Homo sapiens: one gene and its partners. Changing the gene in region 3 together with the main gene of any one other region gives a genetic interaction. Each region holds a gene or a part of one and is shown on either strand. Other genes may lie near its edges.

Evidence for each region.
Region 1: changes in NF1 (region 3) and USH1G together harm fitness more than expected from each alone (negative genetic interaction), as found in Homo sapiens cells (one large-scale study listed by BioGRID).
Region 2: changes in NF1 (region 3) and TOP2A are lethal when combined (synthetic lethality), as found in Homo sapiens cells (one large-scale study listed by BioGRID).

What each region holds. Positions count from the first base shown.
Region 1 is NC_000017.11:74,917,920-74,920,412, reverse strand, and holds part of USH1G (pre-mRNA splicing regulator USH1G), read left to right. Parts: coding exon 1-959; intron 960-2,336; coding exon 2,337-2,340; 3' UTR 2,341-2,493. UniProt on the Homo sapiens protein: Plays a role in pre-mRNA splicing by regulating the release and transfer of U4/U6.U5 tri-small nuclear ribonucleoprotein (tri-snRNP) complexes from their assembly site in Cajal bodies to nuclear speckles, thereby contributing to the assembly of the pre-catalytic spliceosome on target pre-mRNAs.
Region 2 is NC_000017.11:40,411,301-40,414,957, forward strand, and holds part of TOP2A (DNA topoisomerase 2-alpha), read right to left. Parts: intron 2,326-3,657; coding exon 2,180-2,325; intron 1,993-2,179; coding exon 1,895-1,992; intron 1,672-1,894; coding exon 1,459-1,671; intron 519-1,458; coding exon 345-518; intron 156-344; coding exon 54-155; intron 1-53. UniProt on the Homo sapiens protein: Key decatenating enzyme that alters DNA topology by binding to two double-stranded DNA molecules, generating a double-stranded break in one of the strands, passing the intact strand through the broken strand, and religating the broken strand.
Region 3 is NC_000017.11:31,339,320-31,342,976, reverse strand, and holds part of NF1 (neurofibromin), read right to left. Parts: intron 2,473-3,657; coding exon 2,332-2,472; intron 1-2,331. UniProt on the Homo sapiens protein: Stimulates the GTPase activity of Ras. NF1 shows greater affinity for Ras GAP, but lower specific activity. May be a regulator of Ras activity.

The DNA of each region.
Region 1 (2,493 bases), about 44 Mb from region 3:
GAGGCGGAGCGGCGCATCCGCGAGTGCGCCAAGCTGCAGCGGAGGCACCACGAACGCATGGAGCGGCGATACCGGCGCGAGCTGGCCGAGCGTTCCGACACCCTCAGCTTCTCCAGCCTCACGTCCAGCACCCTGAGCCGCCGGCTGCAGCATCTGGCGCTGGGCAGCCACCTGCCGTACTCTCAGGCCACGCTGCACGGCACGGCCAGGGGCAAGACCAAGATGCAGAAGAAGCTGGAGCGGCGCAAGCAGGGCGGCGAAGGCACCTTCAAGGTCTCCGAGGATGGGCGCAAGAGCGCCCGCTCGCTCTCGGGCCTGCAGCTGGGCAGCGACGTGATGTTCGTGCGCCAGGGCACCTACGCCAATCCCAAGGAGTGGGGCCGAGCCCCGCTCCGGGACATGTTCCTCTCGGACGAGGACAGCGTCTCCCGTGCCACGCTGGCGGCCGAGCCTGCCCACTCGGAGGTCAGCACCGACTCAGGCCACGACTCCCTGTTTACCCGCCCCGGCCTGGGCACCATGGTGTTCCGCAGAAATTACTTGAGCAGTGGGCTGCACGGACTGGGCCGCGAGGATGGGGGTCTGGATGGGGTGGGAGCGCCGCGGGGTCGGCTGCAGAGCTCCCCCAGCCTGGACGATGACAGCCTGGGCAGTGCCAACAGCCTGCAGGACCGCAGCTGTGGGGAGGAGCTGCCCTGGGATGAGCTCGATTTAGGCTTGGACGAGGACCTGGAGCCCGAGACTAGCCCGCTGGAGACCTTCCTGGCCTCTCTGCACATGGAGGACTTTGCCGCCCTCCTGCGGCAGGAGAAGATCGACCTCGAGGCTTTGATGCTGTGCTCTGACCTCGACCTCCGCAGCATCAGCGTCCCACTGGGGCCCCGAAAGAAGATCTTGGGGGCCGTGAGGAGGCGGCGGCAGGCGATGGAGCGCCCGCCGGCCCTGGAGGACACAGAGCTGTGAGTGTCCAGCCTGGCGGGGGGGATGGAGGAGCAGGAGTTGGAAGGCCCCTGGGGAGGGGGTACAGATCTGCCTATTCAGGAGTAGGGGGTGGGGGATACTGTATTTCATAAAATCGAAATGAGGCCATCGATGATAAAAGGCACCCTTATTTTATTTACCACCAGCTCAGAAAAAGAAGTGGCCAATTTAATGATGACCCGAGGCATTCTTATCACAGTGAAAGTGCACCTCGATTCTGGGGACATCGACAAGTGGGGAAATGGGCCTCTTAATGTCAATGAATTTCAACAGTCACAGGAATCACAGCTGGGGTGTTTTTGAGCCCTCCCACCTCCTAGGTGCTGGGTTGTGCCCTTGAACAAGTCCTCTTGCTTAATCCCTCTAAAAGCCTGTGTGCGCTGGACTATATTGGTGGATTATATCGTTCCCATTTTACAGCCAATGAGCAAGTGGAGGCTCAGACAGTTAGAATAGCTCACCTCAAGGTCCTGCTGCTGCTCAGCATGGAGCTAGGCTTGATCCCTGGTCTGCATGGCTTTAGAGCCTGGGGTCAAGGTGGCTGCCATGGGATGCAGGGCGTGCAGTCAGCAGGGCCTCTCAATTGCCCAAGACCTCAGGCAGATTTTTTTTTTTTTTTTTTTGAGACAGTTTCCCTCTTGTCATCCAGGCTGGAGTGCAGTGGCACAATCACTGTAACCTCCACCTCCCGGGTTCAAGCGATTCTCCTGCCTCAGCCTCCTGAGTAGCTGGGATTACAGGAGTGCACCACCATGCCCAGCTAATTTCTGTATTTTTAGTAGAGATGGGGTTTTGCCATGTTGGCCAGGCTGGTCTCGAACTCCTGACCTCAAGTGATCTGCCCACTCTGGCCTCCCAAAGTGCTGGGATTACAGGCGTGAGCCACCGCGCCTGGCCTTAGGGAGATGTTTTACCTACTGTTCCTGAACTTTGCAATCAGGAACGTGGGCAAATGCTCCCAAGAGGGTCAGCAGCAGCCCTGGAGGCAGAGTTCATGTTCCAAAGGCCGTCATAGTTGCCCAAGGCTGCCACCACAATGGTCATGCTGTGGCCAGCCCCTGCCCTGGCCCCTCCCCAATGGCATCCCACAGGCCCAACAAACTTTGTCCTCATTTCCTCTTAGGTATCTATGGCCGTTATCCTGAATGGCTGGGGCAGGGATGGGTGTGGGGAGGCAGGCTGGTTCAGAGTTTTGGGGATGGGGAGGTCACCCATAGGCTGGCGTCCCCCATCCCTGACAATTGGCCTGCCGAGAGATGGGGAGGCTAAGTTGTCCAGATGGCTGCCCTGGGTGAAAATGATGCCTCTGGAGGGCCTCATGTGAGATCTGTTTCTTTCTGTCTCTTCCTCCACAGATAACCGGGGGCTCCTCTCCCCAGACCAAAATGAATTGCAAGTTGCCACAACCTATGGTGGGGTCTCGAGGTCCTCACAGTTGCCAGCCCTGCAGCCCCCTTCCCCAGGAGCAAGGACCAGTTGGGGCGACTCCTTTGAAAGTCTGTCTGCACCTTG
Region 2 (3,657 bases), 9.1 Mb from region 3:
GCCTTTCTCTTCTTCCTTGACTTTAGAAAAAGAAAACTGCCAAAAGCACATACCTGATGTGCTTTTACTGCAACACCACCCTTGTTCTTCTTCTTCACAACATCAACAAGTTTAGTCACAATCTGATCAGCTACATAATCAACATGTCTGCCACCCTAATAAGGAAAAATACCAAACTGTAAAACTCAGTATCCTCAAAATTATAATAATCAAACATTAAAAACTAATTTAACCTCCTTTATACTAAGCTAGCCCAATATTCAAGTCCACTTTATATATTAAAAACAATAAGAACACATATATGTAAAGATAAATCATGATTAATAATTTAAGAATAAAATTACCTTGGATGTAGCAATGCTGTTGACAAAGCTAATTTGCTGAAAGCCTTTTTCACTCATAGTTAAACACACTTCCCACCTGTGGTTTACTTGTTCATGTATTACTTTCAAGGAGTTACCAGTTTCATCCAACTTGTCCTTCAAATACATGTCCACATAACTACGAAATCCTTTTACCTGTACAGGAATTAAAGGTAACAGTATTAAGAAAGTTATTAAAAAATAGGTTCAATGATAGACTATGAGGACTTTCCAAAACCAATGCAATGATGTTCACTGATAGGCATAAGGGAATGGTCATTAAAGGACACAGGCCGAGGTGGGTGGATCACTTGAGCCCAGGAGTTCAAGACCACCCTGGGCAACATAGTGAGATCCCCACCTCTATTAAAAAGAAAAAAAAAAATTAGCTGGGCATGGTGGTGCTGCCTGCATTTCCAGCTACTCCAGAAGCTGAGGTGGGATGATCGCTTGAGCCTGGGAGGTCCAGGCTGTAGTGAGCCGTGATTGCATCACTGTACTCCAGCCTGGGTGACACAGCGAGGTTATCAAGAAAAGAAAGAAAAAGGAAAATAAAAAAAGGACATGAAATATTTATTTTAGGTGTTTCTTTGAGAAAGAAATTCCTTCGGTAAGTTTAAAATGAGCTGATTAAAAAATGTGGCATACCATTCTCTTTTCAAGAACATATGTGAGAAGTGGTAAGAAAATACATATGGTTGGGCCAGGTGCAGTGGCTCATGCCTGTAATCCCAGCACTTTGGGAGGCCAAGACGGGTGGATCATGAGGTCTGGTGTTCGAGACCAGCCTGGCCAACATAGTGAAACCTGTCTCTACTAAAAATACAAAAAATTAGCCAGGTGTGGTGGCAGGCACCTGTAATCCCAGCTACTTGGGAGGCTGAGGCAGGAGAATTGCGTGAACCTGGGAGGTGGAGGTTGCGGTGAGCCGAGATCGTGCCACTGCACTCCAGCCCGGGCAACAGTGTGAGACTCTGTCTCAAACAAACAAACAAACAAACAAACAAAAACATATGGGAGGGGAAAAAATTCAATTTTGCACTTGACAATGATTACAAAATCCCTTATTATCCTTAACATCCAGGAAAATACTCACTGGCAGTTTATTTCCATTAAGAAAGACTTTGACATCTTTGGTGGATCCAGCAATATCATATGCTCTTCTGACCATTAGTGCAACAATATCTTTGTCCAGGCTTTGCATTTTAAACTTAGACAAATCAGGCTGAAAGGTGATACATGTATAATCTTCTCCATTGAAGGGCTTGAGTTCCATCTCACCAGCTCTTCCCATATTATCCATCCATGTCTATGGAAGTAAAGAATAGGAAACATGAAAAATTCAAGTCATCTCACAAACTGGAAGTAAATAACATAAATTTATGAGTCCTAATAACCTAATATATATGCTTATAATTTTCCATACTTCAATAGCTTATAAATTATGTTAAATTAAACCAATCATTAATGCCATTATAAATGGCTATACTACTACCATTTATCATTAAGGTACAAGACACTTATTTACTTGCCTGTTTGAACATTTTCTTGTATTCTCTACTGGCTGTTTCCACAGTAAATTTGGTACTGAATATGTTACACAATTTGGCTCCATAGCCATTTCGACCACCTGGGCAAATAAATATGAAACACTATTTTATTGTTACTATCTCATTGACAGCTTTATTTCTTAATCACTGGCAGAGCTATTCAATTATAGAGATTTATTTCCATATCTTTAACCCTCATGCCACAGACAGTCATTTAAATATATATATTTTTAGCAACAAATATGTTATTTCCCCTCAATACTCTACCTGTCACTTTCTTTTCATCATCATCATAGTTACTAGAAGTTAGGAGCTGTCCAAATATGAGAGCTGGGACATACATCTTTTCAACTTTGTGTTCAACAACAGGAATACCTTTTCCATTATTCCATATACTAATTAAATTGTTTTCCCTAAGAAAAAAAGATTGAAAATTGTATTTTACAACACATTAAACGAATGCTTAACATTTAAAAATATTTAAATACTATTATTTCTAAAATATGTATATTCAGGCTGGGCGCGGTGGCCTGTGCCTGTAATCCCAGCACTTTGGGAGGCTGAGGAGGGCAGATCACTTGAGGCCAGGAGTTCTGGCCAACATGTTGAAACCGTCTCTACTAAAAATAAAAAAAATTAGCCAGGCATGGTAGCGCATGCCTGTGATTCCAGCTACTTGGGAGGCTGAAGCAGGAGAACTGCTCAAAGTGTTGGGGTTATAGATGTGAGCCACCATACCCAGCCCTCAATTTTTTTGGCACTTTTCATATATACCTTCTGAAATTCAGCAGGAACATTTCCCACCATGCTTAGTTCCTGACATTCCTGAAATAGGAGTCAAGAGGAAAAAAAAACCTTTTCCAACACCTGAATAGACACTGATAATGTTGAAAAAATACAAAATTTTAAAATGTTAGGATAAACAGAGGGAAATGATTTATGCCCAATGGAAAGAAAAGGACAATCTGGAAACATTATTATACACCACTCCCACTCCTTTTTTGAGACAGCATCTCGCTCTGTCACCCAGGCTGCAGTGTAATGGCAGGATCACAGCTTACTGCAGTCTTGACCTCCTGGGCTCAAGCAATCCTCCCACTTCAGCCTCCTGAATAGCTGGGACTACAGGTGTCCATCACCACACCTGGCTAATTTTTAAATTTTTTGTAGAGATGAGGGTCTCACTATATGGCCCAGGCTGGTCTCAAACTACTCCTGGGCTCAACTGATCCTCCCACCTTGGCCTCCCAAAGTGCTGGGATTACAGGAGTGAGTCATCATGCCTATTATACCCCTTTCAAGAGGATCATCTATACATCTCGTTCCCACTCAACAAAGTACATAAAAACAGGCTGGGCGCAGTGGCTCACGCCTGTAATCCCAGCAATCCCAGCACTTTGGGAGGCTAAGGCAGGCAGATCACTTGAGGTCAGGAGTTCGAGACCAGCCTGACCAACATGCAGAAACCCCATCTCTACTAAAAAAAATACAAAATTAGCCAGGTGTGGTGGTGTGCGCCTGTAATCCCAGCTACTCTGGAGGCTGAGGCAGGAGAATTGCTTGAACCCAGGAGGTGGATGTTGCGGTGAGCCGAGATCATGCCACTGCACTCCAGACTGGGCAATAAGAGCAAAACTCCATCAAAAAAAAAAAAAAAAAAAAGGAAAACCAATATCAATCATAAACTGCCTTGCTCTCAAATAAAATGCTGAAAACTTATTTCAGTTATTTTAAGTTAATTCTTG
Region 3 (3,657 bases):
GTTCACACAGTAGCTTTCTTTAAAGGCTCACTTAATTTTGTGTTCAATAGTATGACAAGATAAGTAATCCTTTCAATTTGAGAGAAATTATTTTCAGTTGACTGCAGAAAACCACAGAACATTTTAGCTACTACAAATTAACTGGTGCAAGACAGTCAAGCATATAAATAAGAAGATGGTGGAAGATGAAATCACTTTTATTTACAATACAAAATAAATGACTGTCAATTTACATCCCGGTGACTTTTAACATGCTTATTAACTCTGATGCCTAGCATCCAAAGGGCACTAGAATCAATATTAGCTCCCGCTACTGGGCTGTTTTGAAGATGAAAATACCGAGGCAGATGCCCCATTTGCAATGCTCCATTTGCAAATATTCTTTTTTTGAGATGGAGTCTTACTCTGTCGCCCAGGCTGGAGTGCAGTGGCACCACCTTGGCTCACTGCAACCTCCTGGGTTCAAGAGATCTTCCCACCTCAGCCTCCCAGGTCGCTGGAGTTACAAACATGTGCCACCCTGGCTAATTTTTGTATTTTTAGTAGAGACAGGGTGTCACCATGTTGGCCAGGCTGGTCTCGAACTCCTAACCTCAAGTGATCCTCCCAACTCGGCCTCCCAGAGTGCTGGAATTACAAACATGCGCCATTGCACCCGGCCAATTTGCAAATATTCTTAACATATAAATAGCCAACAACTAGATATCGCTGACCACCACTGTCCCAAAACAGTTTTAGAAAAACGGCAATGAGAATTAGGACAGAGGGGTTCTAGTCCCAAAACAGATGTACAAGCATGGGCAAGTTACTTAACTTCTTAGTTCCTTTCTAATTTGCAAAATGGAGGTCTGATTAATAAACTCCATAAGACCTCTTACCTCTAAAATTTTGCTTCTATATTTTTCAGACCCATATCTGTTCCAGGTTCACACTACATCTGGTAGACTGAACTAATAATGTTTAGACCAAGTATCTTTTTACACTTAAAACCATAATCCTGTTCTTTGTACCCACAGTTCAGTTAATTTCACTTCAAGCAAATCTCACTGTATATACACATTCTTTTAAAAACATTCCCCTCTTTTCTCCTAGACCCTTCCCATTTTTATCCAAAGACAAAAGGGACGTAATTTCATACTATTTTATTCTCTCCTCTATTCTCTATGAACTAAAATCCAACCCCAATTAGATCTCCATTTTACAAATTAGAAAGGAACTAAGAAGTAATTTGCCCATGTTCATATATATATACACACACACATGCACACGTGCACACACACACACACACCCCATTAGCACCCCTCCTAACATTTATTAACCTTAATTGGAGTTGGATTTTACATATTTTATGTGTGTACACACACACACACACACACACACACTTTATATATATATATACACATACATTACATATATATGTGTGTATGTAATATATGTATACACACTTTTTTTTGGAGACAGGGTCTTGCTCTGTTGCCCAAGCTGGAGTGCAGTGGCGTGATCTCAGCTCACTGCAACCTCTGCCTCCCAGGCTCAAGCAATCCTCCTACCTCACCTCCCGAGTAGCTGGGATTGTAGGTGCATGCCACCATGCCTAGCTAATTTTTGCCTTTTTTGTAGAGATGGGGTTTTGCAAGTTGCCCAGGCTGTTCTCTAACTCCTGAGCTCAACTGATCCACCTGTCTTGGCCTCCCAAAGTGCTGGGACTACAGGTATGAGCCACCACTCCTGGCCACTAATGGTATATTTTAAAGTAAGATTAGACAGAATAAAAAAACTAGTAAAATTAAGTACCCAAAAGTTTCCTTTAGACTCTCCAACTTCCTTATCTACTATGAATTATACGTATTTTTCATTAAGTGGCATTATTAAGTAAAACTAAGATTACTTTTAGATTATTTCTTCACGTGTGAAATGGGGGGCAGAGAATGCTAACCTTTACCTTAAGGTTATGAAAATTAAAAATAAATGTATAGTGTTTAGCATACGGCCTGGCATGGTAGCTATTAATATTATTACCATGTATTGTTTATGCTCATTCTGTAAGGATGATCATGTATTATTTATCCTTATTCTGTAATTCTACTAGTATTAGGCCAGTACTGTTTTTTTTTTGTTTTTTTTTTTTTGCTATTTTTATGTAAAAAATATGCATTCAAGTTTACATAGTTCTTTATGAGCTGGTAAGGAAATATACTCACAATAAGTTACATTATACAAATTCCTACTTAAGTTATGGACTTCTTGTGATTTTAAAAGAATAGCAACAAGAAAAGATGGAAGAGTACTAAATTTGAGTAATCTAGGAACCTCAAGGCAAAGTTTGCTTACCTTGTCATTGAATATACGGAGACTATCTAAAGTATGCAGGTTTTGTTCAAGAAGTGCGGTACCTGCTGAATACAAGTTGACCTCATCAAGCTGCAGCACAGCCACAGCTACCCAAAAGAGGGCTTTGTGCAGAGGCGAGTCCTGGCAAAGAAGATATGTTTGAGGCTAGTAAGATGAATCATGACATAGTCTCTTTCAAAACACACTGCAGTTAAAAATAAAGCAGCTTATCTTCCTAAATTACCCATGTTTTCTCTTTTGGGGAAGATAAAGATATGAGTAAGCTCTTCACTTTTCCATATGTATAACTAAAGACACTGTTAGCTGGACTGAGAACGTTACTTAGCACCTCCTTTGACTTCTCCCTGTTCTTTGATTTCTAAATCCAGTCACCAAGGTTTGTTGATTCTTCTAGAGTAGTCTCTTTTGTATCTTTTGTCATTTCTTTCTTATTGCTAATGACATTACCACATGCCAACCTTCTTTATTATAAAGGTGGATTCTTTTTACTTCAGTTTCTCCCTACTCCAATCCACTGTGCACACTACCACCAGGAGCTAAGTCCTGCTTTCATCGTATGACTTGTCTGCTTAAAAACTGTACATTTCCAAACTCTTTTGAACAATGCTGAATGTGAGATGAGGTCTATCCAGTCCTCACAACTTTCCCTCTCTCGATTCCTTTGAAAAGCTTCTCCATTACAACTAGAATGTTCTACCCACCTTCCCTCCATTGTCCTGGCATTCTTGTGCAGCTCTCTCCCTTTCTCTCTACCTACATTAACTCCTATGTTTCCCTTTAACTTTATTTTAAACTGTCTTTTCAACTTCTTGTCACTCTTAACCAGTATGGTAATCTCTTGCTGCTCTGAATTAAAAGTATTTATTACTGGCAATCTTTACTTAGCACTGTGATATTAGGGAAAATACATGGACTTTAGAGTCAAATAGTATCACATTAGAATCATGGTTCTTTTATTAGGTATGTGACTTTGGGCAAGTTATTTAGCCCTTCTGAGCTCATTTTCACTTAGAAGATGGGGACCAGAGAACCATTTTGTATAATACAAAATTAGAATGCTTGTAGACAAACCAGGAATATAACAGGTATTATTTCTCTGTTATTTCTCCCAAGTCTGGCATACCTTTGTACTCAAATCACAGAATTAAACCACTTTAGAACTGGATGGTAATACCATGCCATTATCGAATCTTTTTCATTTTATTAATACAAAAACATGATTTCCAGATATCTTAAATATAAAAATGGGATAAGGTCAGACCATCCTAAAACAGTGGCCACTTCATTTTACTCCTTTTAAATATA